Linked DNA regions of Homo sapiens. The main gene of each other region encodes a partner of the protein of the gene in region 3 in a complex. Each region holds a gene or a part of one and is shown on either strand. Other genes may lie near its edges. The genes, in order: DRC12, DRC1, DRC10 and DRC5.

What was found.
Region 1: DRC10 (region 3) and DRC12 share a complex: the UniProt entries of both Homo sapiens proteins name them as parts of the nexin-dynein regulatory complex.
Region 2: DRC10 (region 3) and DRC1 share a complex: the UniProt entries of both Homo sapiens proteins name them as parts of the nexin-dynein regulatory complex.
Region 4: DRC10 (region 3) and DRC5 share a complex: the UniProt entries of both Homo sapiens proteins name them as parts of the nexin-dynein regulatory complex.

What each region holds. Positions count from the first base shown.
Region 1 is NC_000011.10:119,192,646-119,200,612, reverse strand, and holds the start of DRC12 (dynein regulatory complex protein 12), read left to right. Parts: upstream 1-4,771; 5' UTR 4,772-4,814; intron 4,815-5,113; 5' UTR 5,114-5,125; coding exon 5,126-5,189; intron 5,190-5,618; coding exon 5,619-5,690; intron 5,691-6,727; coding exon 6,728-6,847; intron 6,848-7,369; coding exon 7,370-7,462; intron 7,463-7,967. UniProt on the Homo sapiens protein: Component of the nexin-dynein regulatory complex (N-DRC), a key regulator of ciliary/flagellar motility which maintains the alignment and integrity of the distal axoneme and regulates microtubule sliding in motile axonemes.
Region 2 is NC_000002.12:26,446,707-26,454,307, forward strand, and holds part of DRC1 (dynein regulatory complex protein 1), read left to right. Parts: intron 1-1,984; coding exon 1,985-2,097; intron 2,098-3,289; coding exon 3,290-3,379; intron 3,380-3,885; coding exon 3,886-3,975; intron 3,976-6,613; coding exon 6,614-6,843; intron 6,844-7,601. UniProt on the Homo sapiens protein: Component of the nexin-dynein regulatory complex (N-DRC) a key regulator of ciliary/flagellar motility which maintains the alignment and integrity of the distal axoneme and regulates microtubule sliding in motile axonemes.
Region 3 is NC_000012.12:113,203,590-113,211,190, forward strand, and holds part of DRC10 (dynein regulatory complex protein 10), read right to left. Parts: intron 6,540-7,601; exon of another isoform or gene 6,412-6,539; intron 4,921-6,411; exon of another isoform or gene 4,671-4,920; 5' UTR 4,578-4,670; coding exon 3,849-4,577; intron 1-3,848. UniProt on the Homo sapiens protein: Component of the nexin-dynein regulatory complex (N-DRC), a key regulator of ciliary/flagellar motility which maintains the alignment and integrity of the distal axoneme and regulates microtubule sliding in motile axonemes.
Region 4 is NC_000006.12:44,294,098-44,302,192, forward strand, and holds the start of DRC5 (dynein regulatory complex subunit 5), read right to left. Parts: upstream 3,602-8,095; 5' UTR 3,562-3,601; exon of another isoform or gene 3,054-3,561; intron 2,450-3,053; exon of another isoform or gene 2,217-2,449; intron 1-2,216. Other genes in the region: AARS2 (alanine--tRNA ligase, mitochondrial), read right to left, coding at 6,450-6,614, 7,059-7,169, 7,284-7,367, 7,963-8,073. UniProt on the Homo sapiens protein: Component of the nexin-dynein regulatory complex (N-DRC) a key regulator of ciliary/flagellar motility which maintains the alignment and integrity of the distal axoneme and regulates microtubule sliding in motile axonemes.

The DNA.
Region 1 (7,967 bases), on a different chromosome or scaffold from region 3:
TGCGTCTGTAGTCCCACCATGCTGAGGTGGGAGGATCACCTGAGCCAAGGAGATTGAGGCTGCAGTAAGCCGAGATCGCGCCACTGCACTCCAGCCTGGGCCACAGAGCGAGACTCTGTCTCAAAAAGAAAAAAAAGAAAGAAAGAAAAACCTCCCAAACAGGCTTCTAGATGAGGAGGACAGGGACAGGTACCCCCACTGCATTACAGCACAGGAGAAGGAGGTGGTGGAGGGAGAATAAATGAAAAACATGCTCAAGATTAGAAGAAGCTGGTCTGATGGTACTGGGTTATCAGAACTTATTAACATTAGTGTCATGTCAAAGAAAAGAGTCAAACTCTGTAAAATATTTGAAGAGATTTATTCTGAGCCAAATATGAGTGACCAATGGCCCGTGACACAACTCTCAAGACATCCTGAGAACAAGTGCCGAAGGTGAACAAGCTACAATTTGGCTTTATACATTTTTTTTTCAGACGGAATTTCACTCTTGTTGCCCAGGCTGGAGTGCAATGGCGCGATCTCGGCTCACTGCAACCTCCGCCTCCCGGGTTCAAGAGATTCTACTGCCTCAGCCTTCCAAGTAGCTGGGATTATGGGCGCCCACCACAATGCTTGGCTAATTTTTTGCATTTTTAGTAGAGACAGGGTTTCACCATGTTGGCTAGGCTGGTCTTGAACTCCTGACCTCAGGTGATCCACCTGCCTTGGCCTCCCAAAGTGCTGGGATGACAGGCGTGAGCCACTGCACCGGCTTGCTTTATATATAAATTTTAAGAAAACATAAGACATCAATCAATATATGTAAGATGTACATTGGTTCAGTCTAGAAAGGCAGGACAACTGGAAGCGAAGAAGCGGGCAAGAGAATTAGGGTTAGAGTTAGGGTTCCAGGTCATACGTGGATTCAAAGATTTTCCAATTGACAATTGCTTGAAAGAGTTATTATCTAAAGACCTGGAATCAATAGAAAGGAATGTCTGGGTTACAATAAGGGGTTGCAGAGACCAAGGGTTTTTTGTTTTTGTTTTTGTTTTTTTGACAGAGTTTTGCTCTTGTTGCCCAGGCTGGAGTGCAGTGGCGCAATCTCGGCTCACCACAACCTCCACCTCCCGGGTTCAAGCGATTCTCCTGCCTCAGCCTCCAAAGTAGCTGGGATTACAGGCACCCGCCTCCACACCCGGCTAATTTTTTGTATTTTTAGTAGAGACAGGGTTTCGCCACGTTGGGCAGGCTGGTCTCAAACTCCTGACCTCAGGTGAATCCACCTGCCTTGGCCTCCCAAAGTGTTGGGATTACAGGAGTGAGCCACCGTGCCCGGCAAGAGACCAAGGTTTTATCATGTAGATGAAGCGTCCAGGTAGCAGGCCTCAGAGAGAATTGATTGTAAATGTTTTTTCTTCTTATCTTTTCTCTTTTTATTTTTTGAGACAGGGTGCCACTGCATTTCCCAGACTGGAGTGCAGTCACGTGATCATGGCTCACTGCAACCTCAACCTTCCCAGGCTCAGGTGATCCTCCCACCTCCGCCTCCCAAGTAGCTGGGACTACATATGCACACCACCAAACTGGGCTAACTTTTGTATTTTTTGTGTAGATGGGGTTTCACCACATTGCCCAGGCTGGTCTCAACCTTCTGGCCTCAAATGATCTGCCCGCCTCAGCCTCCCAAAGTGCTGAAATTACAGGCATGAGCCACCAGGCCTGTAAATGTTTCTTATCAGATTTAAAGAGTGTGTTCTATCAGTAATTCTAAAAGGGAGGAGGGTATGTTGAGGCATGTCCGGCTCCCCCTTCCCATCACGGCCTGAACTAGTTCTTCAGGTTCACTTTGGAAAGCCCTTGGCCTAGAGGAGGGGTCCACTCAGATGGCTGGCAGGCTTAGAATTTTATTTTTGGTTTATAGTCACTAAAGTTGGTATACAGGCGCCCACTACTAAATTCCACTGGCTTCAAAAATAAATAAATAAAAGATTAGAAGAAAAATATCCTCCAGATTTGGGAGATGTCCACAAGATTAGTTGACTCTGAGTTACAGGAGCTGGAAGCACTTGGGAAGTCAAGACTGGCTCTTCTCTTTGCTCTGTAAAATGCCCGGAAGTTCATGTAAGTGCCGTGCAGCCACCAAGGTGACAAGCATGAACCAGCCTCTGCCTAAAGTTACCCACTACCCAGAAGAAGGACTTTTCAATTCCAGATCTTGTGGCTTTTTTTTTTTTTTTTGAGATGGAGTCTTGCTCTGCTGCCCAGGCTGAAGTGCAGTGGCGCAATCTCTGTTTACTGCAACCTCCTCCTCCTGGGTTCAAGCGATTCTGCTGCCTCAGCCTCCCCAGTAGCTGGGATTATAGGCACGTGCCACCATGCCCAGCTAATTTTTGTATTTTTTAGTAGAGACAGGGTTTAATAATGTTGGCCAGGCTGGTCTCGAACTCCTGACCTCATGATCTGCCTGCCTCAGCCTCCCAAAGTGCTGGGATTACAGACGTGAGTCACCGCGCCCAGCCTCTTGTGGCTATTTCTACAGATCTGCTCCTGACAATAGGCAATGGACCAAAAATATTGAGGGTGACAGAGATGAAGAGAAGTACCTAAAGAAGGCCGGGCACAGTGGCTCGCGCCTGTAATCCCAGCACTTTGGGAGGCTAAGGCGGGTGGATCACGAGGTCAGGAGTTCAAGACCAGCCTGGCCAAGATGGTGAACCCCCATCTCTACTAAAAATACAAAAATTAGCCAGGCGTGGTGGTGGGCACCTGTATTCCCAGCTACTTGGGAGGCTGAGGCAGAGAATTGCTTGAACCTGGGAGGTGGAGGTTGCAGTGAGCCGAGATCACGTCACTGTACTCCAGCCTGGGCAACAAGAGCGAGACTCTGTCTGAAGAAAAAAAAAAAAAAAGATAGGCTGGTGCAGTGGCTCACGCCTGTAATCCAAGAACCTTGGGAGGCCAAGGCAGGTGGATCGCTTGAGGCCAGGAGTTTGAGACCATGCTGGACAACATGGTAAAACCCCATCTCTACAAAAAATACAAAAATTGGCCAGGTGTGGTGGCATGCGCCTGTAGTCCCAGCTACTCAGGAAGTTGAGGTGGGAAGATCACCAGAGCCCAGGGAGACTGAGGCTGTAGTGAGCCGTGATCATGCCACCGCACTCCAGCCTAGGTGACAGAGAGAGACACGGGAAAAAAAAAAAGAAACCTAAAGAAAAGAAAGGGTCTGCAGGTCCCCTAATCCAAAAGGAGAAAAGTCCTGAAGTTTTTGCTATTTTCACTCTAACCAGTATGGTGCCCAGAGATCCAAGTGGCAGATAAATGGCAAGCCTCCAGGATAGCACAGAGCTGGAGGGAAAGTGAGGGCTGCCTGACAAGGGAGGGCCACCCATCATACTCTCTCCCCAATGTTAATTCTTCCAGCCACTCCTGGCTCAAACAGGACGCTAAGAAGTATCCCCAAAGGGAGTCACCCCCACTGTTGCCCAGTAAATAATTTAAAAGCAAAAATGTAGGAAACTCAGGAGAAGGTCAAACAAGTCCACTAGAGGGAGCCCCAACCAACTCTATGCTACAGGGAGCCTCACAAAGCAATGTCTCAACACCTGTCTGAAAATCAACCACACAAGGGAATGGGGAAATGTAGCAATAGATTAAGTCACTAGGAGAGAAGATAGCCATGTAAACACGCAGCTAAAACACAGGCTTTTCAAGAGCTGCAAAATCAAACAATTAAAGATCAGGAAACTGATGCTGAGCAAAGTCAAATGGCTCGCCTCAGTTTACATATCCACAGTTGGGACTCAAACTCACATGTCTTGTCTCTAACCTGAGCTCTTTCCTCCACACTTGCATCCCTCTAGGTCAGTACCCTAGAGTCCATGGGTCCACTATTCCTCTGCGTCTCATTTCTCTGAAGTGGGAAACTCCCTGGACTACCTATTCCTGCACTTATTACCCTCATTCTACAGTGTACTGAAGAGGATCTTCGGTGGTCTGGGAGTTTTGTTTGTTTGAGACAGGGTCTCCCTCTGTCATCCAGGCTGGAGTGCAGTGGTGCAATCATAGCTCACTGCTGCCTCAACCTCCCAGGCTCAAGTGATTCTCCTGCTTCAGCCTCCCAAGTAGCTGAGACTACAGGTGTGCACCACCACACCAGGCTAATTTTTTAATTTTTTTGTAGAAATGAGGTCTCACTGTGTTGTCCAGGCTGGTCTCGAACTCCTGGCCTCAAGTAATCCTCCTGCCTCAGCTTCTCAAAATGCTGGGATTATAGGCACGAGCCACCGCCCCAGCTTAGATCTTCAGTTTTAAGCCTACTAATGTCATTTTGCTGGTGGGACCTCGGGATGTCAGTTGTCCAACATGGCTACTGTCAGTCCTTTTCCTCTGTATCAGCACCACATATTATCTCAGATGTGTACATCTGAATTTGGAAGTCTCCAAATTGCAGGCCATGTCTACATGGCAATGAATCATAACTAATCGACCTCCAAAGCCCTTTCTTTTCAAACTATACTTAGGATTTTGGGATAAGGAAAGAACTGACCCTTTGAGACCTTGATATTTTAAACTTTGTGAGCTGATTTAGCCCATTCCACCTTCCTGTGAACTCCATGTTTCCCAGTTGCCTGGACAACATACAGCCTCTGGAAACCCAACCTTCCAGCCCTCAGTCCTGCCCTCAAGAGAAATTTGCCACCAAGGATTGGCTCCCAGGACCCAGGCCCCGCCTCAGGCTCCTCGCTAGTTGGGCCTTCTCTCTGCCACTCCCCACGAGTGGGTCACTCCACGGGGAGCCCCAACGCTGGCAGGAGAGGATCCTACAGGTAGGAAGTGAGGGTTGAGGATGATGGGAAGAGGGAGGGGAGCAGGTACAGGGATTTCGTTTCTCTAAAAGAGAGTTGCAAGGAATGACTTCTGTACAGAGTCAGCCTGGTTGAGAGAAAAAACTCCATCCTCCCCACTGACCCCAACCCTGTCTGAGGTTCCAAAGAGACTGTGAACTGACTTTTCTGAAGGATATGAGAGACAAATTTGGACTCAGGAGAGTCTCCTGGTTCAGTCTAAAGCTCAGGAAAGCATCCCTGTGTCCAGACCTAAACATAAGGTCCCCTCCTTCTCCCAGGACAGCAAGGAGATGCCACCTAAAAACAAAGAAAAAGGGAAGAAATCTGGGGCACAGAAGAAGAAAAAGAACTGGGGTGAGTCATGGTGGGTGGAGGTGCCCCCTGCTTCTCCATGTTCTGCCATGAAGACCACGCAGAGCTCCTCCAGAGAGAATTCAGCCTTCTGCAGGACAGGATGGAGCTCTCTTGACCTACCTCTTTCATGTCCTCACAGCCAGATCCAGGGAGCTGAGGAAGTGGGGAAATGGTCACCCACGCTCTCCTTTAAGCCCCATCTAGCTCTGTGCCTTCCTAATATATTTGTCATGTGTATTTTGCATATCTGTTATGTGCTGGTCGGTGAGGACACGGTGCTGACTTCAGTAGACTCTGCCACTGTGGATACCTCATTTAGTGGTCCTCAGGTCTGCTGTGGCAAAAGTGCAGGGTGTGGGGTGAGGATGTGAGCAGAGTGAGGAATGCTGAGATCATGAAGAGCTGAGGCTCTGCCACTTGCCACCGCAGGTGCAGATGTGGTGGCCGAGTCCAGGCACAGGCTGGTGGTGCTGGAGAAGGAGCTGCTCCGAGACCACTTGGGTAAGGAGGGTAGAAGCTGGCATGGGTGGGCAACAGGGGAAGTGAAATGGGGCATTTCTGTATCCTGGGGGATTGGAGAGTTGGAGGTATGGTGGGGGGTTAAGTTGACCCTAACCATCCCCTAGTGGAAAAAGATGATGAGAGAGGGTGGGCAGTGAGAGTTGATAAAGGAAGGTGTTTTTTTTGTTTGTTTGTTTTTTGTTTTTTTTGGTTTTTTTGACAGAATTTTGCTCTATTGCCCGGGCTGGAGTGCAGTGGTATGGTCATAGTCCACTGTAATCTCTAACTCCTGGGCCGCAACAATCTTCCCGCCTCAGCCTCCCGAGTAGCTGGTATTACAGGTGCACACCACCATGCCTGGCTACTTTATTTATTTATTTTTTTTTTTTTTTTTTTTTTTTTTTTTTGAGACAGAGTCTTGTGCTCTGTCGCCCAGGCTGGAGTGCAGTGGTGTGATCTCGGCTCACTGCAACCTCTGCCTCCCAGGTTCAAGCGATTCTCCTGCCTCAGCCTCCCGAGTAGCTGGGATTACAGGCACGTGGCCACCACACCTGGCTAATTTTTGTATTCTTAGTAGAGACGGGTTTTCACCATGTTGGCCAGGCTGGTCTCGAACTCTTGACCTTGTGTCCCACCAGCCTTGGCCTCCCGAAGTGCTGGGATTACAGGCGTGAGCCACCGCGCCTGGCCCTATTTATTTTATAGAGACAAGGTCTCACTCTGTTGCCCAGGCAGGTCTCAAACTCCTGGCCTCAAGCAATTCTCCCACCTAAGCCTCCCAAAATATTGGGATTACAGGCATGAGCCACCATGCCAGGCTATCCGAAAAGAACATAGAGGGAGTTTTTACTTCTTAATAATGAGGAGCCTGTGAGACTCTAGGGATAAAAAACAAAAACAACAAAACCCAGAGAGAGAGTAAGAGGCTGGACACCCCACCACCAGATTTCTAGAGGTGGGCAAAGTCCATCACGTTCATGGGGGCTGATTTAGTGGGACCCAGCCAGTCCTGACGGCGGCTCTGGGACTGCTCACAGCTCTACGGAGGGATGAAGCCCGTCGAGCCAAGGCTTCCGAAGACCAGCTGAGGCAGAGGCTGCAAGGGGTGGAGGCTGAGCTGGAAGGGGCCCGAAGTGAAGGGAAGGCCATATATGCAGGTGTGTGGTCGGTTAAGCAGGTGGGCAGGAGACAGGGGCTTGGAGGAGGACAACCAACAGGGTCAGTTGATGCAAGGAAGGGAAACAAGGAGGGCTTCCGACTGCCAGGCCTGGTCTTGGTCTTTCCCAAACAGTACAAATCAGGAAGGATCCTGCAGGAACCAAAGGCAGGTAGGTTCCTGGGATCCCAGGCAGGGGCCTTCCAGGATGCCTGGTGCCATGTGCTTGATGCTGTGTAGGATACACATGCAGTCATAGCCATCATCTCAATCAGCCCATGGGCGGGGAGAAGGGCTAGCATCCCCATCCAAAGCTGGACTGGGGGAGGTAGGTCGGGCTTCCTGTCCCTTCCTCAGGTTTTCATGGTCTGCAGCTTCTCAGAATCACAAAAAGAACCAAGAAGGCCTTTGTGCTCCTGTTCCACTAGACCAAGTAGAGTCTTCCCCACCCACAACTTCATTTCCTTTCTCCATCCCTCCATCTCCAACCTGGGTCCCTGGTGGCCCACTGCCCCCACCCCAGAGATGAGTCGCCAGTGCCATGCCCTGCAGGAGGATATGCAAACCCGCAGCAAGCAGCTGGAGGAAGAAGTCAAAGGCCTTCGGGGGCAGCTAGGTAGGTTTCCCCACCCTCCAAGCCCCTTCTCTCCAAGAGTTGCAGCAAGGGCCAGCATGAAGGGGTAGACTTCAAAGTCTCTGCTCCAGAAAGCTGCCGTCTGGGCTCTTGGATCACTTTCCCCACTTTCGCTGACCCTCCACCACTGAGGACTGCAGCAGAGGGTTCGGGATACCAAAAATCTCTGCTGTAAGTAAAGAAGAGGCTCCAGGCGCGGTGGCTCAGGCCTGTAATCCCAGCACTTTGGGAGGCCAAGGCGGGCGGATCACCTGAGGTCAGGAGTCCAGGAACAGCCTGGCCAAATGGCAAAACCCCGTCTCTACTAAAAATATAAAAATTAGCCGGATGTGGTGGCGCACACCTGTAATCCCAGCTACTCGGGAGGCTGAAGCAGGAGAATCGCTTGAACCCAGGAGGCAGAGGTTGCAGTGAGCCGAGATCACGCCATTGCACTCCAGCCTGGGCAACAGAGCAAGACTCTGTCTCAAAAAAATAAATAAAAATA
Region 2 (7,601 bases), on a different chromosome or scaffold from region 3:
TGATTACTAAAGACAGTTTACACTGTTTTATGGTTCCTTTTATTCTTAAAATGTGTCCCTCCAGGGATGTACAGACAGATTGCTATATTTTAAAGTCACCTGGAGCCAGGTGCGATGGCTCACCCCTGTAATCCCAGCACTTTGGGAGGCCAAGGCGCGCAGATCACCTGAGGTCAGGAATTCGAGACCAGCCTGGCCAACATGGCGAAAACCTGTCTCTACTAAAAATACAAAAAATTAGCCGGTCATGGCGTGCGCCTGTAATCCCAGCTACTCAGGAGGCTGAGGCAGGAGAATCGCTTGAACCCGGGAGGTGGAGGTTGTAGTGAGCCAAGATTGCACCACTGCACTCCAGGATGAGCAACAGAGTGAGCCTCTTTCTCAAAAAAATAAAAAATAATAAAAATTAAAAAAAAAATAAAAATAGGCCGGGTGCGGTGGCTCATGCCTGTCATCCCAGCACTTTGGGAGGCCAAGATGGGCGGATCATGAGGTCAGGAGTTTGAGACCAGCCTGACCAACATGGTGAAACCCTGTCTCTACTAAAAATACAAAAATTAGCCGGGCATGGTGGCGCGCGGCTGTAATTCCAGCTACTCAGGAGGCTGAGGCAGGAGAATCACTTGAACCCGGGAGGTGGAGGTTGCAGTCAGCCGAGATTATGCCACTGCACTGCAGCCTGGGTGACAGAGCGAGACTCTGTCTCAATAAATAAACAAATAAATAAAAATAAATGCACTTGGAATAGTTTCTGTGTGGTTATATCACCAGCTTGATACACATATAGGTATTTTTGTTTCGTTTTGCTTTTGATTATTAGGGAATGGTTTTTTACAATTTAATTATGTTTTTTGTTCGTTTGTTTTATTTTTGTCTTTTTGAGACAGTCTCACTCTGTTGCCCAGGCTGGAGTGCAGTGGTGCAGTCTTGGCTCACTGCAACCTCCACCTCCTGGGTTCAAGCGATTCTCCTGCCTCAGCCTCCTGAGTAGCTGGGATTACAGGTGCGTGCCACCATGCCCAGCTAATTTTTGTATTTTTAGTAGAGACGGGGTTTTGCCATGTTGGCCAGGCTGGTCTCAAACTCCTGACCTCAAGTGATCCACCTGCCTCAGCCTCCCAAAGTGCTGGGATTACAGGCATGAGCCACCACGCCTGGCCTAAGAAGTTAATTTTAATTAAGAAAATTTTTGGCTCTTGCTGTCAGCTGTCAGTTCTTGCTGTTAATATTTCTCTGGACCAGGCGCCGTGGCTCATGCCTGTAATCTCAGCACTTTGGGAGGCCGAGGCAGGCAGATCACTTGAGTTCAGGAGTTCGAGACCAGCCTGGCCAATGTGGCAAAACCCCATCTCTACGAAAAACACAGAAATTAGCCAGGTGTCGCGGTGGGTGTCTGTAATCCCAGCTACTTGGGAGGCTGAGGGAGGAGAATCACTTGAACCCAGGAGGCGGAGGTTGCAGTGAGCTGAGATCACACCACTGCACTCCAGCCTGGGTGACAGAGCAAGACTCCATCTCAAAAAAAAAAAAAAAAAATTATCTGTGAATGTGCAAAGCCACCTGCCCCTGCTTTGAGTTGGCTGCTTCTGTCTAATCTGTTGCAGGTTTAGAGACTATATAGCCACTTGCTAGATCATCTCTGAAATAAGAATAAATGGGCTCACACTCTCCCTCCCACTTCCTGGTTCATGGCTGGATTTTGAGTATGATGTTTCCAGGTAGACGCAATTTGGAAAAGTAGGGCATTACAGGCTGGCTGGGAATGGCCGAGTTCTCCAGGTAGTCTCTGATTCCGACCCCCTAGCCCGCCTTCCCGCCACGTAATAGGCTTTTTTCATCATAAAGAGACTGAGAGAATGCCTCACAGAGGCTTTTTAAGAGGTACATTTTCTCAAGGAAAGCCATCTGACTGTTTCTCAGAGTCAACTAGCTCCAGAAATTATCTTCTTTTTCTTTCTCTCTCCTCCCCATGACCCAACTGCAGAAGAGGAGGAGGCAGAAGAGGCCGCCGCGGAACCAGAGTCCTACCTGGATTTGCCGAAGCAAATTTCTGAAAAAACTACCAAGAGGATCCTGATGCTCCTGTGTGACGAGTCGGTGAGGCCAGGCGGGGGCTGCAGCAGAGGGACTCACGGGGGTGTGCAGGTTCTGAGGCCTCTGCTGGGCCAGTGCTAGCCTGGAGTCAGGAGTGGGCCAGTCCTCCCCTGGCCAAGCCCAGGGTTGGGCCCTGAGGAGCAGAGTCAGGATGGCCCCTGGACTTCAGGGCCGGTTCATAGAGGCCTTGCCTCTGAGCTGGCCCAGCTGGAAAATGGGTCTAACCTTGGTTGGCCAGCATGGCATAGTTTAGGCCAGCTGGAGGGCTCCTGCCAGCTTAAAATGATGCTGCTTCTGAGACAGAAGTTGCACCAGCTCACCTCCATGAACCAACTTGCTAAGTGATGTGGCCACACTGACATGGCCCTTCTCAGGGGCTTGTTTTGGGGGTGACTCTGGCTATGTTGGGATTTGGATGTCTGCATTGTATGTTAGCAAACATGATTAGCCTTAGAATAAAAGCTGCATTGAGCTGGTTCAGCTGGAGGTTGGGTTGTGGTCAAACATGGGCAGTGTTTGTTTGGATCTTACGGTTCTGAAGTGGGTATTCTTTTAGGATAGTGAGGGCAGTTGCCTTTGGCTGGCTCTTGCCACTGAGGGCAGCTGCTGCTGAAGGGGTCAGGTGGCAGGTTCTGCCCTCTGAACCTGCAGCTGGATGCAGAGGCCACCTCCCCATGGAGCTCTCCCCCAGGCATCCCAGCTCAGAGCGGGCACCGCATCTGCTCAGCCGCCCTCTCCCTTCCACCGCATGTGTGCTGTGTTTTGGTTTGGGGTGCCCACTGCTTTCCATGCCTCCCTGTCCTGCTGCTGTGTTCTGTAGATATTTGGGGACAAGACTATGGGTGAAGCAGGAGCCTGTGACTGGGTCAGCTTTGGACTGTGGTGGGGGCCTCAGGAGTTTGCCTAGTGGCTTGTGGGTGAGGTGGGTTGGTGCCCTTCTGGGTGGGAAAAGCTAAGTCTGTGGTGAGGATGGGCTTTGTCCCTGGCCTTGCTTGTCTCTGGCCTTGCTCCCTGGGGAGGGGGGCGTTCATGGGCACCCCAAGAAGGCTTTGCTGGGGCCCACTGCTGGCTCCCATCCCTGGGCGTCTGCTCCGTGGCATGGTCCCTGGAGTGTTACACAGGGGGCAGCTGCAGACCCTGGGACTCGCTCCTGAAACCTGTCCCCGACAGGAGATGCCTTCTTCCTTCTCCCCAGGGGTTCCTCATAGAGAGCAAGCTGCTGAGCCTTCTCCTGCCCCTGGAGCAGAATGAATGCTATCTGCTGAGGCTGGATGCCATCTTCTCCGTGAGTCCAACGGGGCTGGGAGGACACGGGTGGGGCTGCAGCCGGCCGTGTTCTCAGATGGCCCTGCCATTGCCTCAACCCTGGCAGTGGACGAGGGTCTCCCGGGGCTTCCCCTGCTCCCTGTCACATCCTTCCCTTAACCTACTCTCCACACAACACATTGGTCTCAGACTCACTGCAGTGTCTCCCACCCCTGCCTCTTCCTCTACTAGCATCTTCCTCTCAGGTTGTAGGTTCTCCCTGACACCCCCAAACTCAAATCTGGTGCAGCCCCACTAGGCATCCTCACAGCCATGGGATCCATATGGAGCAGCTCCTGGCTCTATGAGCATTGTTTCCGTGTGTTCTGATGTGTGTGTCCCCAAGTTCACAGTCGCTTCCCAGCGTTGGATGAATGCCCTCCACAAGCCAAGCCTCCCGCTCTTAGGAGCTGAGCATCTGTCAGCTGCCCAAGCCCGTGGCCTCTTGATGGGGTGTTTGAGCAACCATCCTGTTTTTCGCCCCAGGCCCTTGGAATTGAAAGTGAGGATGACTTGTATAAACTGGTGAACTTCTTCCTTAAATATCGAGCTCACCGTTTATCTTCCAGCCTCCAGGTAAGGCAAGGTGCAGAGAGAAGAAAGCATTTTCTTTCTTTCTTATTTATTTATTTATTTTATTATACTTTAAGTTCTGGGTTACATGTGCAGAACATGCAGGTTTGTTACATAGGTATACATGTGCTCTGGTGGTTTGCTGCACCCATCAACCCATCACCTACATTAGGTATTTCTCCTAATGTTATCCCTCCCCTAGCCCCCACCCCCCGACAGGCCCCGGTGTGTTATGTTTCCCTCCCTGTGTCCATGTGTTCTCATTGTTCAACTCCCATTTATGAGTGAGAACATGCGGTGTTTGGTTTTCTGATCTTGTGATCGTTTGCTGGGAATGATGGTTTCCAGCTTCATCCATGTCCCTGCATTTTCAATTGTCCCGAAGCCCCCAGAGCACAGTGCTGTCTTTGAGTAGCACTTCTGGAGAAATAGCGGGGCTTTTATGTCAGGTATAGCTAACTTAGCATTTCCCTTATTGTTTATCAATTTGTCTCTTTGTAAAGGGAAGAATGGCTTGGGGGTGAGATGCTGTTCTTATACTGAGGCCCAAGCAATCTTTTCCTGCACCCTCCCTCAAAACCAGGTCTCAGCCACTGTGAGACCAGAGCCCACCAGGTTCTGAATATTTTGATCCTTAACACTTTCCCGCAAGGCAAGGCCCATTTGTCCTACATATCTTGATTGTAATTGATTTCAGAAGGTGAATCAAATATTAACTATTTTAAAGAAGATGCCATATTAAAAGTCATATAACATTTTAATTTAAAAATGAAAAATGTGAATGAAAAATGTTTTTAGTACTGCTAGCCCAAAGCTGAGTATCCTGACATGCCTGTAAAAAGAGTTGGCTGGGCTAGGCACAGTGGCTCATGCCTATAGTTCCAGCTACTTGGGAGGCTCAGTTTAGCCCAGAAGGTTGAGGCTGCAGTGAGCCATGATGAGGTTGAGGCTGCAGTGAGCCATGATTTCACCACTGCATTTCAGCCTGGGTGACAGAGTGTGAGACACTGTCTCTAAGGGAAAAAAAAGAGAAAAGAAAAAAAGAGCTGGCAGAAATGGACAAAACCACAAAGCCATAAAGGGAATAAAAGCTATATTTGACTACAGAATTTAAAAACAATTCTGTAGTGCAAAAATCATGATAAGCAAAGTTAAGAGATGAATGACAAGCTGCAGAGAAATATTTTCAACTCATATCATAGTTAAGGCATTTCCTTAATATATAAAGAGCTCTCTGAAATCAATAAGAAAAAGACCAACAAAAGGAACAGATAACAAATATGAATGAACAACTCCTAGAAGAGGCAATACAGGTAACTCTTAAACATATGAAAAGACAATCAGCCTTCCTTGTAATAAGAGAAATGCAAATTAAAATGGCTGATTTCCATTTTGCCAACCTGTTATGTTGGCGCAAAAAAAAAAAAAGCTTGATAACACAGCAAGTATAACATAGCGATGACTGAGGTGTAGAAAACAGGCACACTCATAAGTTACTGGTAGGAGTATAAATTGTAACCTCCATTGAGGACAGTTTGGCAGTATCAATTACAAAACTATATACATTTTACTCTGAAATTCTTCTTCTTTTTTTTGAGACAGAGTCTCACTCTGTTGCCCAGGCTGGAGTGCAGTGGCACGATCTCGGCTCACTACAACCTCCATCTCCCAGGTTCAAGCCATTCTCCTGCCTCAGCCTCCTGAGTAGCTGGGATTGATTACAGGCACCTGCCACCACGCCCGGCTAATTTTTGTATTTTTAGTAGAGATGTGGTTTCACCATGTTGGCCAGGCTGCTCTCGAACTCCTGACCTCAAATGATCTGCCCACCTTGGCCTCTGAAATTCTTCTTCTAGGATTTTATTCTCTAAATATATCTCATTACAGTTGAAATGGTGTATTTATTGTAGCTGATTCACTGTACATTGTTTGAAATGGCAGAAGATTCGAAACAACCTATATGTCCATTGTTGAGGAATCTATTTAATAATATATGGTATGTCTACACGATGGGGTACTATAAAACTGTGGGAAAAAACCAAAGTTCTTTATGTATTCACATGAAAAGGTACCTAAGGTTTATTGGTAAGTGTAAAAGCAAACTACAGAACTCTATTTGTAGTATAGTATCATTGATGTCAAAACGAGAAGGAGGAGTATATATGGAAAGGTATGCGCATGTATTTATATATAAACATTATATAGACATACTATTTCCTTGGAAGGAACCATAGGAAACTTGATAGCATTCGTTTGCCTGTGGGAGGTCAATTGCATGAACTGCAAAATAGGAGTAGGAGGAAGACCTTTTAAATTTAACAATTAAAGCAAAAATTTAATCTGTATTATGATTCAAAAGAAGATTTCTAACATGTAAGCTTTATGAATGTCAGTAAGGTGAGCACCTAGGAGCCCGGATTTAGAAACAGAACCTTTCCATTTTCTCGTAGCCTCCTAGTGCCTCTCCCCATCCCATCCCCCTTCTTCCCACTCTTTCTCCTGTTTCTGTCCCTGTGTAAATGTCTCCCTGGGCAAGCTGTCACTTTCTGTAAACTTTTCTGGTTTTTCTTCTTCCTGCCTCTCTCTCCATGCTCATGCTCGTGTGTCCCCAGCCCACAGTTGTCCGTGCATCTTTCTCCAGATCAAGCCCTGCAGTCAGGCGAGCATGGAGAAGGCGAGCATGGAGGAGACAAGCACGAGGTCAGAATTGGAGCTGGCAGAGCAGACGGAGATGGAGGGAGAAAAGGAAGAAAGCCTGGTGGAAGGGGAGAAGGAGGAAGAGGAGGAGACCCCACCCTCCCCCTGGGTCATCCACCCCAATGATGTCCTCAAGATTCTGGAGGCCTTCGTCATGGGTCTGAAGAAGCCTAGGTGGGCTGCGGGGCTGGAAGGCTTGCCTGAGACCAGAACCAGGGGAGCTGGATGGGCTGGGGAGCCAGGCAGAGCCAGTGAGTGGAGAAGAGTCTGCTGGGCAAGATGCGGGGACTAAGGACAGGGCTATCTGAAGGCGGGCTGGGGCAACCAATCGCTGGACAGTCAGGAAAGCAATAGGGCATAGTGGTGATCTGTGCTTTTTTCACTCATCATTCATTCAGCAGACATGCACTGAAGGCTGCCATGTGTAAGCACTGTGGGGGCACTGCCTTGTGATCAGAGTAATGGTCAAAGCACATTCAAGGTGCACCATTGTTCAGAGGAGGAAGTGGCCGTTTCCATTTGGCATGTCAGAGGGTTTTGGGAGGAAATGGCACTGGAACTAGGTGTTCCCAGGCAGATAAAATGGAGGTAAGGGCATTTCAGGAAATGACAGCATGGGGAAGGTCTGGTCTGTTCAAGAATCATCACAGGAGGTCTGGCTGGAGTGTCAAGGGCCTGGGAGGTGGCACTGGTGGGTGGGGAGCTAGCCAGGTCTTGGAGAGCCTTGCCCAATGTGCCCAAGATCTTTGTCTTTACCCGTTGGTGGGTGGGAGCCAGAAAAGGATTTGAAGCAGCCGAAGAGCCATGATTAGCCTTGCGTTTTAGAGAGATCATTGTGGCGTCAGGGAAGGGGCGAAGCTGGATACAGGGAAAGCATCAGGAGGCTTGTCCAGGTGGGAGGTGAGGATCCCCCAGATTAAGGCTGTCATGAG
Region 3 (7,601 bases):
CTCAGCCTCCCGAGTAGCTGAGATTATAGGTGCACGCCACCACACCCAGCTAATTTTTATATTATGAGTAGAGATGGGGTTTCACCATGTTGGTCAGGCTGGTCTCGAACTCCTGACCTTAGGTGATCTGCCTGCCTCAGCCTCCCAAAGTGCTGGGATTACAGGCATGAGCCACTGTGCCCAGCTAATTTTTTTTTTTTTTTTTTTTTTTTTGTAGAGATGGGGTTTCACCCTGTTGCCCAGGCTGGTCTTGAACTCTTGACCTCAAGTGATCCATCTGCCTTGGCTTCCCAAAGTGCTGGGATTATAGGTGTGAGCCACTACTTCCAGCCAGACACCCCATCTCTAAAAAAAGAAAAAAAATTAATTAGGCAGGCATGGTGGCATGTGCCTGTAGTCACAGCTACTTGGGAGGCTGAGGCAGGGAGATTGCTTGAGCCCAGGAGTTCGAAACCAGCCTGGGCAACATAGCGAGACCCTGTCTCTACAAAAATGTAAAAAATTAGCCAAGAGTGGTGGCGCATGCCTGTAGTTTCAGCTACTCAAAAGGCTAAGGCAGGAGAATCGCCCAGGAGGTCAAGGCCGCAGTGAGCTATGAACGTGCCAATGCACTCAAGCCTGGGTGACAGAGCAAGATCTTGTCTCTAAAACTAAAAACTTCTAGAAACCAAATTCCTTGATTAGGCCTCAAAGGCCCTGTGTGATCTGTCTCCTTCCCCTGCTTTCCCAGCCCATCTTTGTCCCTTCCCTCTAGCTCACTGGCATTCTCTGGGTTTCTGAACTAGCCAGGCTTATTCTTGTCTCATTACTGAGGTGCACTCTACCCTCCACCTGGAACAGGGGTTGGCAAACTATGGCCCACAGGCCGAATCCAGCCAGCCACTTGTATTTGTAAGTAAAGTTTTGTTGGAACACAGCCCATTCATTTACATATTGTTTGTGGCTGCTTTTCCCCTATAACAGCAAAGCTGAGTTGAGTAATTGCAACAGACCATCTGGCCCACAAAGCCTAATGTTTTTACTATCTGGCCCTTTGTAGAAAAAGTTGGGGCCAGGTGCGGTGGCTCACACATGTAATTCCAGCACTTTGGGAGGCTGAGGTGGGAGGTGGGAGGATCACTTGAGACCAGGAATTCAAGAACAGCCTGGCCAAAATGGCAAAACTCTGTCTCTACTAAAAGATACAAAAATTAGCCAGGCGTGGTGGCACATGCCTGTAATCCCAGCTACTCAGGAGGCTGAGGCACAAGAATCACTTGAACCTGGGAGGTGAAGGCTGCAGTAAGCTGAGATCATGCCATTATACTCCAGCTTGGGCATAGAGTAAGACTGTCTCAAAAAAAAAAAAATAGTTCGCTGATCCCTAGCTTGGAAGGTTCTTCCTCACTGCACTTGCCTGGTTCACGCCCTCGCATTCTTCATATCTTGGCTTCAATGTCCCTGACCTTTTGGTGTTAAGTTCTCCTGTAACACTCCCTTTGAGAAGTACATTGTACTTCTCAAAACTGTAATTAAATGAATTCTTTAATTCCTACCTTCCTTACTGTGAACTCCATGAGGCTGGAACCACATGGGCTTATTTATAAGACCTGGCACCTAGTAAGTACTTACAATAATTTGTGGAGTAAATGAATTTTTTTTTAAAAAAAAAAAGCTACTTAGGCCAGGCGCAGTGGCTCACGCCTATAATCCCAGCACTTTGGGAGGCCAAGGCGGGCAGATCACTTAGGGTCAGGAGTTCAAGACCAGCCTGGCCAACACGGTGAAACCCCATCTCTACTAAAAATAAAAAAATTAGCTGGGCATTGTGGCGGGCACCTGTAGTCCCAGAGACTCGGGAGGCTGAGCCAGAAGAATTGCTTGAACCCAGGATGTAGAAAATGAAATAGAGGTTCCTCTTCAAAGGGACTTTCCTCCCAGTCTAATTCAGAATAGGTAGTAACCTCTCTTAGAACCAAAATTTACTCGAAGACCTGTGTTAATATTCTTCAATTCTGCTAGCTGTAATAAAGAAATCAGGCCGGGCGCGGTGGCTCATGCCAGTAATCCCAGCACTTTGGGAGGCCGAGGCGGGTGGATCATGAGGTCAGGAGATCGAGACCATCCTGGCTAACAAGGTGAAACCCCGTCTCTACTAAAAATACAAAAAATTAGCCGGGCGCGGTGGCGGGCGCCTGTAGTCCCAGCTACTCGGGAGGCTGAGGCAGGAGAATGGCGTGAACCCGGGAAGCGGAGCTTGCAGTGAGCCGAGATTGCGCCACTGCAGTCCGCAGTCCGGCTTCCGGCCTGGGCGACAGAGCGAGACTCCGTCTCAAAAAAAAAAAAAAAAAAAAAAGAAATCAATAGGCCGGGCGTGGTGACTCACGCCTGTAATCCCAGCACTTTGGGGGGCAGAGGTGGGCGGATCACGAGGTCAGGAGATCGAGACTATCCTGGCTAACACGGTGAAACCCCATCTCTACTAAAAATACAAAAAAAAAATTAGCTGGGTATGGTGGTGGGCACCTGTAGTCCCAGCTACTCGGGAGGCTGAGGCAGGAGAATGGTGTGACCCTGGAGGCGGAGCTTGCAGTGAGCTGATATCACACCACTGCACTCCAGCCTGGGTGACAGAGCAAGACTCCGCCTCAAAAAAAAAAAAAAAAAAGAAATCAATATACTCTGTTCTTAGCTCCCACATTTTAGCTTAGATATTTGCCTTGGCATACCTGAACCGGTCCAAGCAAGCATTAGGTCATAGCCTATTCCTCTTCCTTATTTGGAGGTGTTTTTGCCTCTCTCAGCATTCCAGGAGTTACTTGCTCTCTTCCTTTGTTTCCCTCTGCCTTTGCCTCTTTTGGGAAGTTCTAAATTGCTAGCCAATCGGGTTGAGTACAGAATGTGAGGTCCTGTTCCAGCCAATGGAAACTGGACACAGCAGTAGGGTGGATGCGTCAGGTTATAAATGACCCCGTCTCTTTTGTTCATGTGTGCTCTTGTGGCAAGACTGCTAGCAAGCAGCACCCTTTCTGCAGAGAGTAAACTAGCCTTGCTGAGAGATCCTTTGTCTCAGTGTTGATTTTGGCGACACCGAGCACCCATTCCCAACACAGGAGGCGGAGGTTGCAGTGAATCAAGATGTTGCCACTGCACTTTAGCCTGGGTGACACAGCAAGACTCCATCTTAAAAAAAAAAAAATCACTGGGGAGGCCGGGCATAGTGGCTCATGCCTGTAACCCCAGCACTTTGGGAGGCCAAGGCGGAAGGATCTCTTGAACCCAGAAGTTCGAGACCAACCTGGGCAACGTAGCAAGAGCCCATCTTTACAAACAATCAAAAAATTAGCCAGGCATGGTGACACACACCTGTAGTCTCAGCTACTTGGGAGGGTGAGATGGGAGGATTGCTTAAGCCTGAGAGATGGAGGCTGCAGTGTGCTGTGATCATGCCACTGCACTCTAGCCTGGGCAACAGAGTGAGACCCTGTCTCAAAAAAATCAGTCAATCAATTGGCCAGGCGCAGTGGCCAGCACTTTGGGAGGCCAAAGCAGGAGGATCACTTGAGGTCAGGAGTTCTAGACCAGCCTGGCCAACATGGCGAAAACCTGTCTCTACTAAAAATACAAAAATTAGCCGGGCGTGGTGGCATACGCCTGTAATCCCAACTACTTGGGAGGCTGTGGTGGGAGAATCGCTTGAACCTGGGAGGCAGAGGTTGCAGTGAGTCGAGATTACACCACTGCACTCTAGTCTGGACAACAGAGCGAGACTCCATCTTAAAAAAAAAATCAATCATTGAGGAAAAACCCAACCAACAAAAGATTTGTGTGGCTTCTTCAGTAATTTCAGCAATACTATGAAACAATACCTCTGCATTCCTGTTCTTCATTCTCTCCGCCAATTCCTTTTCAAGAGTATCAATGATTTGTTGGTTATTACTATTCTGTCTACTGATATCCTGTAAGAACTGGGCCTTATCCCTCGCTTCCATGGGACTAGTGAGTAGTTTTTCAAACAGGAAACCACGGAGCTCTATCAGGCTGTCAATAAAATTCTGGGCTTCTGCACTTCTACCCTGTGTCTGCATCTGCAGGAGCCTAGCAGCCTGGGGGTTGCTGAGCAAGAGTCTAAGGACGTTCTTGGTGGAGTCTTTGATCTGCTGCATAAGTGGTGAGAGGCTGGATTTCTGCAGCTCTATGGAAAGGAGGCGGTCTCTGAGCCACCCTTCCTCCTCAGCCTCTTTCTGCTCCTGCAATTGCCTTTCTTTCTCTTTCAGGCACCTGACGTTTTCAAGGAGGACCTGGCAGAGATCCTCATGCTCTCTCACTGCCCTCATGACGTCCTCCCCCAGCATCCCCTCCATATCCTCTCTGTTGGATGCCACATACGACAGCAAGGTCACCAGCTCCACCTTGTAGATCGCCTCATCCAGGATGGACATGATCCTTTTGGCCTCAATGGTGGTGAGTTTGGTCCTAGAGAGAACCAAGGGTTTTAGTGGATCAGCTGGCCTTTTAGATGGGTCTGTCTTTGGCCCTATTCTGTTGATGGCAGGGGCCTGATACAAAGGGGCCATGGCGAGAATGTCTAAAGCCATCTTGTGAGCAGCCCTCTGTGCCTCTGTAGGTCCACAGAGATGGAGACTTCGGTAGACTACTTGGGTCTCGTGCTTTTATTGTCTCTGGCCATCCTGCAAAATGAAGAAGTAGGTGTGAGTGCAGCTGTGCTGACATCTGTGTGGTTAGTGTGGCTGCAGAAACCACAACTGTTGACATCAAGAGTTCATCTTAGGTCCTCTGTCGCTTTTACACAGAACCTTTCACTGGAAGCAGTTTTCAGCTTTGTGAGGGTGTTAGGGCCACAAGGGCAGGAAGACCAAGTGTGGAGGCATCTCAGGCACATGTGTCAGGCGGGGACCAGCCAGGCATACAGACAGCATTCTAAGGATTTAAAACCAGAGACTGGTTACATCAGTGATGGGAGAGTTGAGAGGCCAACCAGGGGAAGACAAAGCCATCCCGCAATTGTCAATGGCAGGAAGCCACCACATGAAGAGATGGTGAGCCTGGGGCCCAGGGTCACCCAGGGGAAGTTTGAACCACAGCCATCAGTTCCCAGAGGAGCTAGAGACATTGCCGGAAATGCAGATTAAAGAAGGGTGGCGGTGGGGGAGGAGAAATACCCTGGTTTCTTTCTACTGCCCTTGGCCAAAACCAGCAGGAAACCAACTGACAAGCAGCCTGGGCGACGGAACCACAGGCCTCAGCCTATGTCTGAGCAGGACAGGGACAGGGCAGAATGCAGTGTAAGACTAACAGGACTAGGAATGGCACATTTTCACTGATTTTAAAGTTTTTTGGTTTGTTTGTTTATTTGTTTTGAGACAGAGTCTTGCTCTGTCGCCCAGGCTGCAGTGCAGTGCCATGATCTCGGCTCACTGCAACCTCTGCCTCCTGGGTTCAAGTGATTCTCCTGCCTCAGCCTCCTGAGCAGCTGGGACTACAGGTGCACACCACCACGCCTGGCTAATCTTTGTATTTTTAGTAGAGACAGGGTTTTGCCATGTTTGCCAGGCTGTTCTCAATCCACCTGCCTTTGCCTCCCAAAGTGCTGGGATTACAGGCCTGAGCCACCACGCCTGGCCATTTTTAAGTACTGATTTTAAAAATTGGTGGGTGAAATATAACTTTGAAATACAATTTAAAAAACTGTTTCACTAAATGTAATGTTGTATTCTGGATTGGGTTCTGGAGTGGAAAAAGGACATTAGTGGAACTGGAGAAATCCAAATCCAAATCCAAATCTAGTCTAAAGTTTAGTTAATAGCATTGTACCAACATTAATTTTGTAGGCGCTCTGTTACCCTGGCTGGAGTGCAATAGTGTGACCATGGCTCACTCCAGCCTCGACCTACTGGGCTCAAGTGATCCTCCTGTCTCAGCCTCTCAAGTAGCTAGGACTATAGGTGCTCGATGCCTAGCTAATTTTTTAACTTTTTATAGAGATGAGCTCCACTATGTTGCCCAGACTGATCTTGAACTCCTAGGCTCAAGCAATCCTCCCACCTTAGCCTCCCAGTGCTGGGAATACAGACAGGAGCCACCGTGCCGGGCCTAATTTTGTGGTTTTGACAAACACATCAAGGTTATCTAAGATGTTAACATTAGGGGGAGCAGAATGGAGGGCATACGGGAACTCTCTGTACTATCTTTGCAACTTTTCTATAAATCTACAATTATTACAAAGTAAAAAGTTTAGTTAAAAGACTATTTCAGGCCAGGCATGGTAGCTCACACCTGTAATCACAGCACTGTGGGAGGCCGAGGGAGGTGGATCATCTGAGGTCAGGAGTTCAAGACAAGCCTGGCCAACATGGCGAAACCCCGTCTCTAATAAAAATACGAGAGAATGCCAGGCATGGTGGTACGCACCTGTTACTCAGGTTAACCCCAGTTACTCAGGAGGCTGAGGCATGAGAATCTCTTGAACCTAGGAGGCGGAGGTTGCAGTAAGCCAAGTTTGCATCACTGTACTCCGGCCTGGGCAACAGAATGAGACTCTGTTTCAAAAGATAGATAGACAAATAAATAACTGTTTCAGAAAAATCTATAGGGCAATCAGAGATCAGTAATTTATATTGCTTTCATAGTACAATGGCTAAAAGTACTAGCTTTGCACAGCCCCACTTGGGTTCAAATCCTTGCTGGGGGTCTCTGGGCTGGTCATTTAATCCTCCAGAGCTTGGGCTTCCTCAGCTGTAAAACAAGAGTCCTCAGGATGAATGAGAAGCCTGCACGCTGTAAAAAATGTTCAATAAATAACTAATAGCACTAACCCAGGAAAACGAAAATCCCAAGTCCAGGACTTTAATGATTTCTGATGCAATTGCTGAACGAACACCTACTGCCTTGGCCAAGCACAGGGGCTCACGCCTGTAATCCTAGCACTTTGGGAGGTTGAAGTGGGAGGATCGCTTGAGCCCAGGAGTTCAAGACCAGCCCAGGCAACATAGCAAGTCCCCATCTCTTAAAAAAGAAAAAAAGAAAAAAAAAAAAAAAAGAACACCTACTGCCCAGGATGTCTGCTCACCCCCCAACACCATGTCTCAGATGGACACCCCCCATAACATCCCCATCCCTCACCCTGATTCTTCTTCATCTCTTCCCCCTTATCCTGTTCGTTCTCCAGGTTAAGTATCACCATCTGACATCCCTATATGCACCTGTTTATTTGTTTATTGTCTGTCTTTCCCCCTCTCCTAAGAAGTAAGCACCAATGAAAGCTGTAAGTTACTACTTACAGGTTACCTGTGCCACTTTTATTTTCATATTGTCTGTAGATGTGAGAAATGTTTTGAAGAAAGAATCATTAGGACTTGAGTGAAAGAGTTTTGAGTTTGGGTGACTGGTAGAGAAAGATGGGGCCCTTAAGAAACTATGGCAGAAATTGGGAGAGGAGAGGACATTTGGAGGGGAGGACAATGAGCTCACTTTTAAACTCATTGAGCTCTAGCTGCCATACTGCAGTGGACAATGGTGTCTTGGCCTTCCCATTATCCAGGGAGTGCAGTGGCACGATCATGGCTCACTGCAACCTCGACTTCCTGGGCTCAAACAGTCCT
Region 4 (8,095 bases), on a different chromosome or scaffold from region 3:
TCAGCCTCCCGAATAGCTGGGATTACAGGCATGCACCACCACGGCTGGCTAATTTTGTATTTTTAGTAGAGACGGGGTTTCTCCATATTGGTCAGGCTGGTCTTGAACTCTCGACCTCAGGTGATCTGCCCGCCTTGGCCTCCCAAAGCGCTGAGATTACAGGCGTGAGCCACTGCACCCAGCCTAATGTAGCAAACTTTTTAAAAAGTAGAAGTTGTAATATATTGTTTCTGACAGTTTAAGTGTGCAGAAATTACATATATAATACACATGACTACATATAAGATATCAGGATATATGTATTCCACACCTTAGTGTGAATGAGTTTCAGATACAAAAAGCAAAGTTAGAAAAGGGGCAAGGGAGGCGGGATATGGTGGCTCATGCCTGTAGTCTTAGCACTTTGGGAGGTCGAGGAGGGTGGATTACCTGAGGTCAAGAGTTCAAGACCAGCCTGATCAACATGGTGAAACCCCGTCTCTACTAAAAATACAAAAATTAGCCAGGCATGGTGGCACATGCCTGTAATCCCAGCTACTTGAGAGGCTGAAAGAGGTGGTTTATAAGATAATTAGGGGAAAAAAATGAAGGTTGAACCCAGGAGGCAGAGGTTGCAGTGAGCTGAGATTGCGCCACTACACTCCAGCCTGGGCAATGAGAGCAAAACTCTGTCTCAAAAAAAAAAAAAAAAAAAAAGAAAGAAAGAAAAAGAAAGGAGGCAAGGAGAATAACCACAGAAAGGAGAGGAGGTGGGGAGTGGGTAAAGGAGAAGACAGGAGTCTGAGAGAGCTCTGCCTGTTTCACAGATTGGTCTTAGTCTGGCCTGGCAGTCATCAGCCTGCAGCTGAGGGTGCAAGTAGGTGGCACTATCTTCCCTGGGAGCCTGCAGGGATGGGTGGATACCCAATAGCTGGGGGCCCCGGGCACATGGACAGTCCCCAAGGACCCACAGAGGGCAGTCCTGGAGGTGGCTGAAGGGTCACCTTCCTCTCCGGAGCTTTCTTTCCCTGGGAACCTGTTGGGCCAGTCAGAGAATGCCAGAGTTTGAAGACTAGGAGCATGTTCAAGACTCCAGTCTTGAACATGGGCAGGGCAGGAATCCTGACATTCCAGAGAGGTCAGGGCCACCAGGAGTGGGTACGTCTTGTGCCACCACCTGGTGTCTCCATCCAAGGATGTGCTGCGCTCTCAGAGGGGGAAAGTGGGAGAGTGGGGACACGTGCAGTGGACTTTCACTTCTCTGGGGCCTGCCTCACCAGCTTGTTTGGCTTCACATGGTTGTGTCTCTAACCTGGGACCACAGTCCCCAGGGAAAGGCCAATCCTCCTCCCCTGGGCCCCTACTCTGCATCCTCAGGACCAGGGTCCAGGGTCCTGAAATCACACACAGGGAACAACGTCTATACCAGGACATTAACTCAAAGGATTGGGTGTGGACTGCTCTTTCCATGCCCAAGCACAGGTAATAGAAAGTGACAAGATGTTCCAGTTTGGCCAGGGTTGTCCTCATTTCTGATGGCTTGAATCTGGTGGACAGGTGTTCTGGGAACCATACCCTTGGCTATATATAGCTATGATTTATTGAGAGCTCTAGGCCTTCAATAACATGTACATAGCAGGAGGCAGGACAGCAGCTGGCTAAGTACTCAGGAGTTGTGCTGCTGCCTCAAGTCAAATCTCCACGGTGCCCCCCACTATCTGTGCAACCTTGGGCAGGTCCCCACTTGCCTCAGTTTCTTCATCTATAACGTGGGGACAGTACTTAATAGTATCTATTTCATAGGATTACTCAGAAGATTAAGGAGCTAATGTGTGTGAGACATTTCATATAGTGCTGGGCCCAGAGCCAGCACTCAAGATGTGTGTTAGATATTGTAGTGAAGATGCTAGATACCTTACTACATAATTTTATTAAAATCTCAAATTAATTATTGAGGATTATTATTTAACACTATTGTCCCCATTTCACAAATGAGGAAACTGAAACTTAGAAAGCTTAAGTAACTTACTAAATGTCACTAGCTAGTAAGTGGAGAAGCTGAGGTTTTAGTTTGTGTCTGTCTAATGCTCTTACTTCCATGAGATGCTGGGGTTGCTTATAAATTGCTCCCAACTCAGTCATTCATAGCACTTTTCCAGTGGGTCTCCCACTTTCTCCAGCTCATGAGCTCTCTTGTTCACCAATATGGAGCCCAGGGTTATACCCTTGGTGCTGACCTAAATAGTCCAGGCTCCCTCTTCCAGTTCACTGCTGGGTATAGGAGACTTCCGCAAGGCTGGACCACTGCCTGCATCCTTTGGAGGGTGCAAGGAGCCCAACAGAGTGCTGCAGAGTGGTGCTCTCCTGCCCCTGGCATATTCCCTCCACAGGAAGTCTCAGGTCTTCTCCATCCTTCCTCAGGTCCCCAGCTAAATCTAACCATTCTGGGTAGGAGCTCCTTCCACCTGCCCTAATGGGAACACGAGGAAGATGCTGTAGGTTTGCATTCTCACCTTCTTGTGCATCACAGTTCTGGTCCTCAACTGTCCCCTCCTCCCTTCCTCTTAGTGGAGAAGTGGAGACACCCGGCCCTCTTTGGGCAGACAGCGCCTCTGTGCCCGGGACACTTCCCCAGGAGCTGGCTTTGCACCCACTGCTCTGACTGCCTTCTCTGCCTTCTCAGCCGCTCCCACCCCAGATCCCCTCAGGAGAGCCCTCCTCTGTTCTCAGGGCTCTGGGCTTTTGTCTACAGCCACCTCCATATCCTTCATGCCCACCATGTCTTACTTTGGGGTAAGTCACTCCCAAGTTGGGAATTCCACTTGTGGAAGGGCAAAAAACTTTCTCCAACTGAGCCTCGGCCCGTGTGCTTGGACTTGGGCTGGGTGAAACCGCCAGTTCACTTACCACAGCCCCTGGGCTGGCCTCCTCCCAACTCCTGACCACTCAGGTCTGTTGTCTCAAAAGTGACTCCAGCGGCTCTGGAGTCTCCCACCCCTCCTCCCTACCTTCAGCTCAGACACCCCAGCAGAGAAGCTCAGCTCCAAAGGCCAGGAGTCCCTCCCCCATCCTACCTGGGGTGTAGAGGCGCTGGCTTCTCCTTGGTAACCCAGGGAAACCGGCAGTGCAGTGGGAGGTAGGGAGATGAGGAAGCTTCCGCACCCGCGGGAGGGATTACAGCCCTCGGGTGATGGGAACGGACGGCCTTTCGGAGAAGCCTAGGGCCCCAGGGCTTGGGACCGCTCTCCTCCACGCCCTACGGATGCCCCACTTTCCCCCTCTTCTTCCCAGTCCCTCCCCTCGCCTCACTCGGATCCCCAGCCCCGGGCCAGACGGTTTGCAGACAGTGACTGTGGTGGGGAGGAGGCGCGGGGCGTCCTCGCGTGGAGGGCGTGGGGTCTCCCGTGGGTACGGACCGGCGCTTCCCCGCCACGGAAAACGCAACCCAGGCAATGGCCGCCCGTGGGCTTCGGGCCGGTGTGGGCAGAGGACGCTAGAGGGGCTCCCGGGCCCAGCCGGCCAGAGGGGGCCCCGATAAGGGAGACCGGGGCTGGGTGTCCCCACTCCCGGAGGTCGCCTCACCCGCTCCGGGAGCCCCGGCGCTCGCCTCACGCAGAGTCCCGCGCGCCGGCGCAGGTCTTTGTCGTTGGGGACGCCCCGCGTTGCTAGGAGCGGGCCGGGCCGGGAGGACGAGCGCGCCGCTGCTTCCTCCGCTGCCGCTGCCGCTGCGCGCCAGGCACGCGGCTTACTCGCGCGCAGGGTGGCCAGGCCCGGCCTCGGGACGGTTCCGTGGAAGCGGCCGCTTTGCGGGTAGTGGGACTGTGGCCTTGCGCTATGCCCTGTGCTTCCGTGGGACGTGTCTAGGAACGGGTGGGCTTTCTGCGGGAGGCGGGGGTCGGGCAGGGCTGCTGGTCTGGAGTGCTTGTGCTCTCTTGGTAGCTTTTGTGTGGCAATGGATAGGGAGCTGGTCCAGGAAAAGCGTCTGTGGAAGAAGAGGAGGGTGGACGCACCTTCTCCAAGGCACCTGTAGAAGTCACTGGAACTCCCGTGAGGCCTCCTGTTGACCTTAGGCCCTGCGGGAGGGAGGGCACCTTCCACCTTTCCCCCAGCTGAAGGTCTGGTACCAGACGCAGGAAGGTTCCAGGCCAACACAGCGCTCCTTCACACAGTCCATGCCCTGTGCCAAACTCTCTTCCAGCCCTGGCGCGACAAGATGTGGTTGGGGCCCCAGATCTCCTGGAGGGCGAGAGGGACAGACCAGAGGGACGGCTAGTAAAAAAAAAGAAATTGGCCTTCAGGAAGGGAGAGGCAGCCAGGGTGGCGGGGCTTTCAAAGGGTAGCTTTGACTTCAGCTCTGCCGAGGACTACTAGTTGGTTACCCTGGATGAACATCTCGAAGCTCTGTTAACTCATCAATAAATCAGGGGTGCCAAAACTCATCTTGGCGCTCGCGGAGGAGCTTGAACCTGGGCCTGTGGTGAGCACTGCTAAACAGGCTACTGCCCCAGTGGCCAGGATGCTGCTTTGCAAGCAGTGAGGGGCCAGGCACCCGGGATTGGGTCCCTTCAAGCCCTCAGCAGTGCCTTACCAGCAAATCATCAGTGCCTTAATTAGAATGAGAAACTGCAGAAAATGATGCCAGGCGGGCCCACGCTGCTCGAATAATTTTTACTAGACAGAATTTGGTAGCCAGGGAGCCCTTGATTTGAAGATGGATCCCCTGAGGCCCTTTCCTTCATCTAGCAACAGAGATCTAGGAACAAAGGCAGAGGTCCAAAGTCTGGCTGTCTGAGGTGGACTCATTCTGGTAGGGAAGGAGGGCTTTCCTCCATCTCTGCTTCCTCCTGCTTTGAAGTGCCAATTTTCAGCTTCAGCTCAGGCTTGAGGCAGGTGCTGTACAACTTGTTTTAATAAGCATATTGTTTGTCTGACCCCGCTCTCCAGCCTCCTCACCTGCCCCTATCCCAGCTCACTGCTCAGTGGCACTGGCCACCTCACGGCCTCTGCATTGGCTGTTCCCTCAGGCTGGAATGCTTTTCCCTGATTTCCACACGGGTCACACCCTCACCTCCCAGCTCCCTGCTCACATGTCACCTCTTGGTGAGGGAATATCACCATCCACACTCCTGATCCCCATTCTCTATTTCCCCCCCAGACCTCATCACCATCTGACACTTTCTCCCTTCTTTTTTTTAAGACAGGGTCTCACTCTGTTGCCTGGAGTGCAGTGGTGCAATCATAGCTCACTGCGGCCTTGAATTCCTGGGCAAAGTGATTTTCCCACCTCAGCCTCCCAAGTAGCTGGGACCAAGGTGTGGGTAGTCTCAGCTACCTGGGAGGCTGAGGCATAAAGATTACTTTTTTTTTTTTTTGTAGACAGGGTCTTGCTGTTTGCGCAGGCTGGTCTTGCACTTCTGGCCTCAAGCGATTCTCCAACCTCAGCCTCCTAAAATGCCAGGATTATAGGCATGAGCCACCAAGCCTGACCCTCTTCTTTTGCTTTATTTCCTGTTTCCTCCACATGAAGCAGGCTCCATGAAGGAAGGAACTGTCAGTTTAGTGCCCGCCACGTTCTCAGTTGCTCAATTCATCAACAAACCAGCAGGGCCCAATTTAAATTAGAGGTCATTGTTAATGAAAGAAGTAATAGCAAAGAAGGTCTCCAGTGCTGAAATGATTTTCACAGGATGGTTCTGTATCTTCCCAGTAGCCAGGGAGCCCTTTGTCTGCCCACTGTTGCCTGGCACGCAGAGCCTGTCCGAACACTCATGGCAATGAAGATGGCCCGATTTGGATCCTGGGTGGCCTTTCAGACAGTGTGAGTTCAGACTGGTCTTAGGTTGCTGGGAGGGGCAAAACTACTCTTTTTTAAAGGTAATAGAACCTTCTGGAGCTTGCTATCCTCTGTGAAATAATTATTTGAGACAGAGTCTCGCTCTGTCACCCAGGCTGGAGTGCAGTGGTGCGATCTTGGCCCACTGCAACCTCCACCTCCCAGGTTCAAGCGATTCTTCTGCCTCAGCCTCCCGAGTAGCTGGGACTACAGGCGTGTGCCACCACACCCGGCTAATTTTTTGTATTTTTAGTAGAGATGGGGTTTCACCATGTTAGCCAGGATGGTTTTGATCTCCTGACCTCATGATCTACCTGCCTCGGCCTCCCAAAGTGCTTGGATTACAGGTGTGAACCACCACACCCGGCCAGTGAAATAATTTCTAATGTGCAGTCACAGCCATAATTGTCCATGTCTTCTCTTTCACCAAGGGGGTGTGTGTCTTTGGGCCCAGTTCTGCCTTCCCTAGCCCATGTCTCCTTGTGTCACGTAGGCCCTGGCCCAGGTGATCTTCTTTGGCTCAGCTGCTTGGCCTCCAGCCTCTAGTCCTCGCTTCAGCATGTGGGAAGGTTCTGCTGGCTCCTTCAGGGCTCCTGGCATTGCCTTTAGTCCATGTGGGTCCCTGGGCGGACCTGGGTCAGAGCTGGCTGAGGGCATAGGTTTGGGCTATACTGAGGGCAGCTTCCAGGTCAGTAGTGCTTCCGGTGCCTTGGGCCACCACTCGTGAGCCCCACGCCTTGCCCCCCATGTGGCTGCACACTGCCAGTGCCCAGGCCTCTGCTGTGAAGGTGGGCATGGCACCCTAGGAACAGAATCAGAAGAGGAAGCGATGCAGAGTGGCCCTCCCTGCCAGCATCCACTCAAGGTACCCTCAAGAGTGGAGCTGAAGGTCATCAGTGCCCCCTTCCCAGCTGGGCACATGGTGGGGCAGTCAGGTGATGAGCCGGAGAAGGTTTGGGCTGGAAATGTGTGTGGGGAGGTGTATGAACGTGAACATCTGCTACTTGTTTACAAGGGATGTGAGGCCTGGGAGGGGTTAGGAATTAAGGAATCTCTTGGTGCCTTCTGGGGTGGGGAGGGGCTGTTTTCAGGAACAAGGAGATTCCCCATCCCTGTCCTGGAGTATCCTCATAGATACTTCCACCCAGCCTTGGCCCCTTTGGGAGGAATTAAAGGTGTAAAATCAGAGAGCTGGACCAGGATGGGTATTAATGGGGGCGGTGGGCTGCTCTCCCACTTCCCTCACCTGGGCCACCTGACAGGCACACAGCACCTTCCCCATGGGCTGGGGGCTGAGTAGGAGCACAGACGTGCTGGGGGCCTGCTCACACAGCTGCCGTACCACCTTCACCAGCACCTGGACCACGAAAGACAGATGGTGAGCCCATCGCTTCCCAGACCCCTAGCTGTCTCCTGGTCAGGACTTTGCCCTCCCCAGACCCTGGGGCAGCCCGGCTTGGCTAGCACTCACTGAGAGAGACTCAGCAGAGACTGTGTCCACAATCAGAGGCCCCTTCGAGTGCCGCTCCAGCAGCTCCTGAGTTTTCTTTGCAGCCTATGGGGCAGGAAGGACAAGCAGAGGGGTCAGGCTGAGAGGCAGGTTTCCAATTAGCCCCAACTTCTGAACTAAGCCCCAGCTGAGCAATCCCCTGCTTCCCCCACCCACCCCAAAAGTCATTAGCTCTAGGCAGAGGTGGCAGGGACTCTGCCTAGGGTGGCCTCCTTTTTGGGTCCCACATGTGTCCTTCCTCACTTCCCTCACCACTTCCCTTTCATCATAGCTTCAGGCCCCTACAAATAGGTCGCTGAAGGTGAAAGGAGGAAGGTCAGAGCACAGATGGACCAGGAGTGGGCGGGAGAAAGGGGGATCCACAGTGGAGGTGCAATCAGGGCTGAATGGCACTAATCAAGTCAGTAGGCTTCCGGGGGTTCTGAGCCAGACTTGGGAGTTGGGGGAGAAACACAGTTTGAAAGAGACAGAAGTGGGGGAATGGCCTGGGTGATGGTTCTCAGCTGGCAGGAGAAGGAAGCTGCCACCACCCCGTCCTTGCACAGCCTCTGACTCACCCCCATGCCCCAGCCCTTGAGACTTCTCAGTGTATCTGCTGGAGTGTCTCTGGGCACATGGGTGCAGCCAAACCTCCTCTCACCTGTCCCATTTGCAGCTTACGGATGGCAGTGTTGGCACGCCGCTGCAGCATCTTCACTGTGGCCAGCAGCTCCCGCCGCTGCCACTGGGGCATCACAGCAGTTTCCACAGCCTATGGCCAGAAGCAGTACATC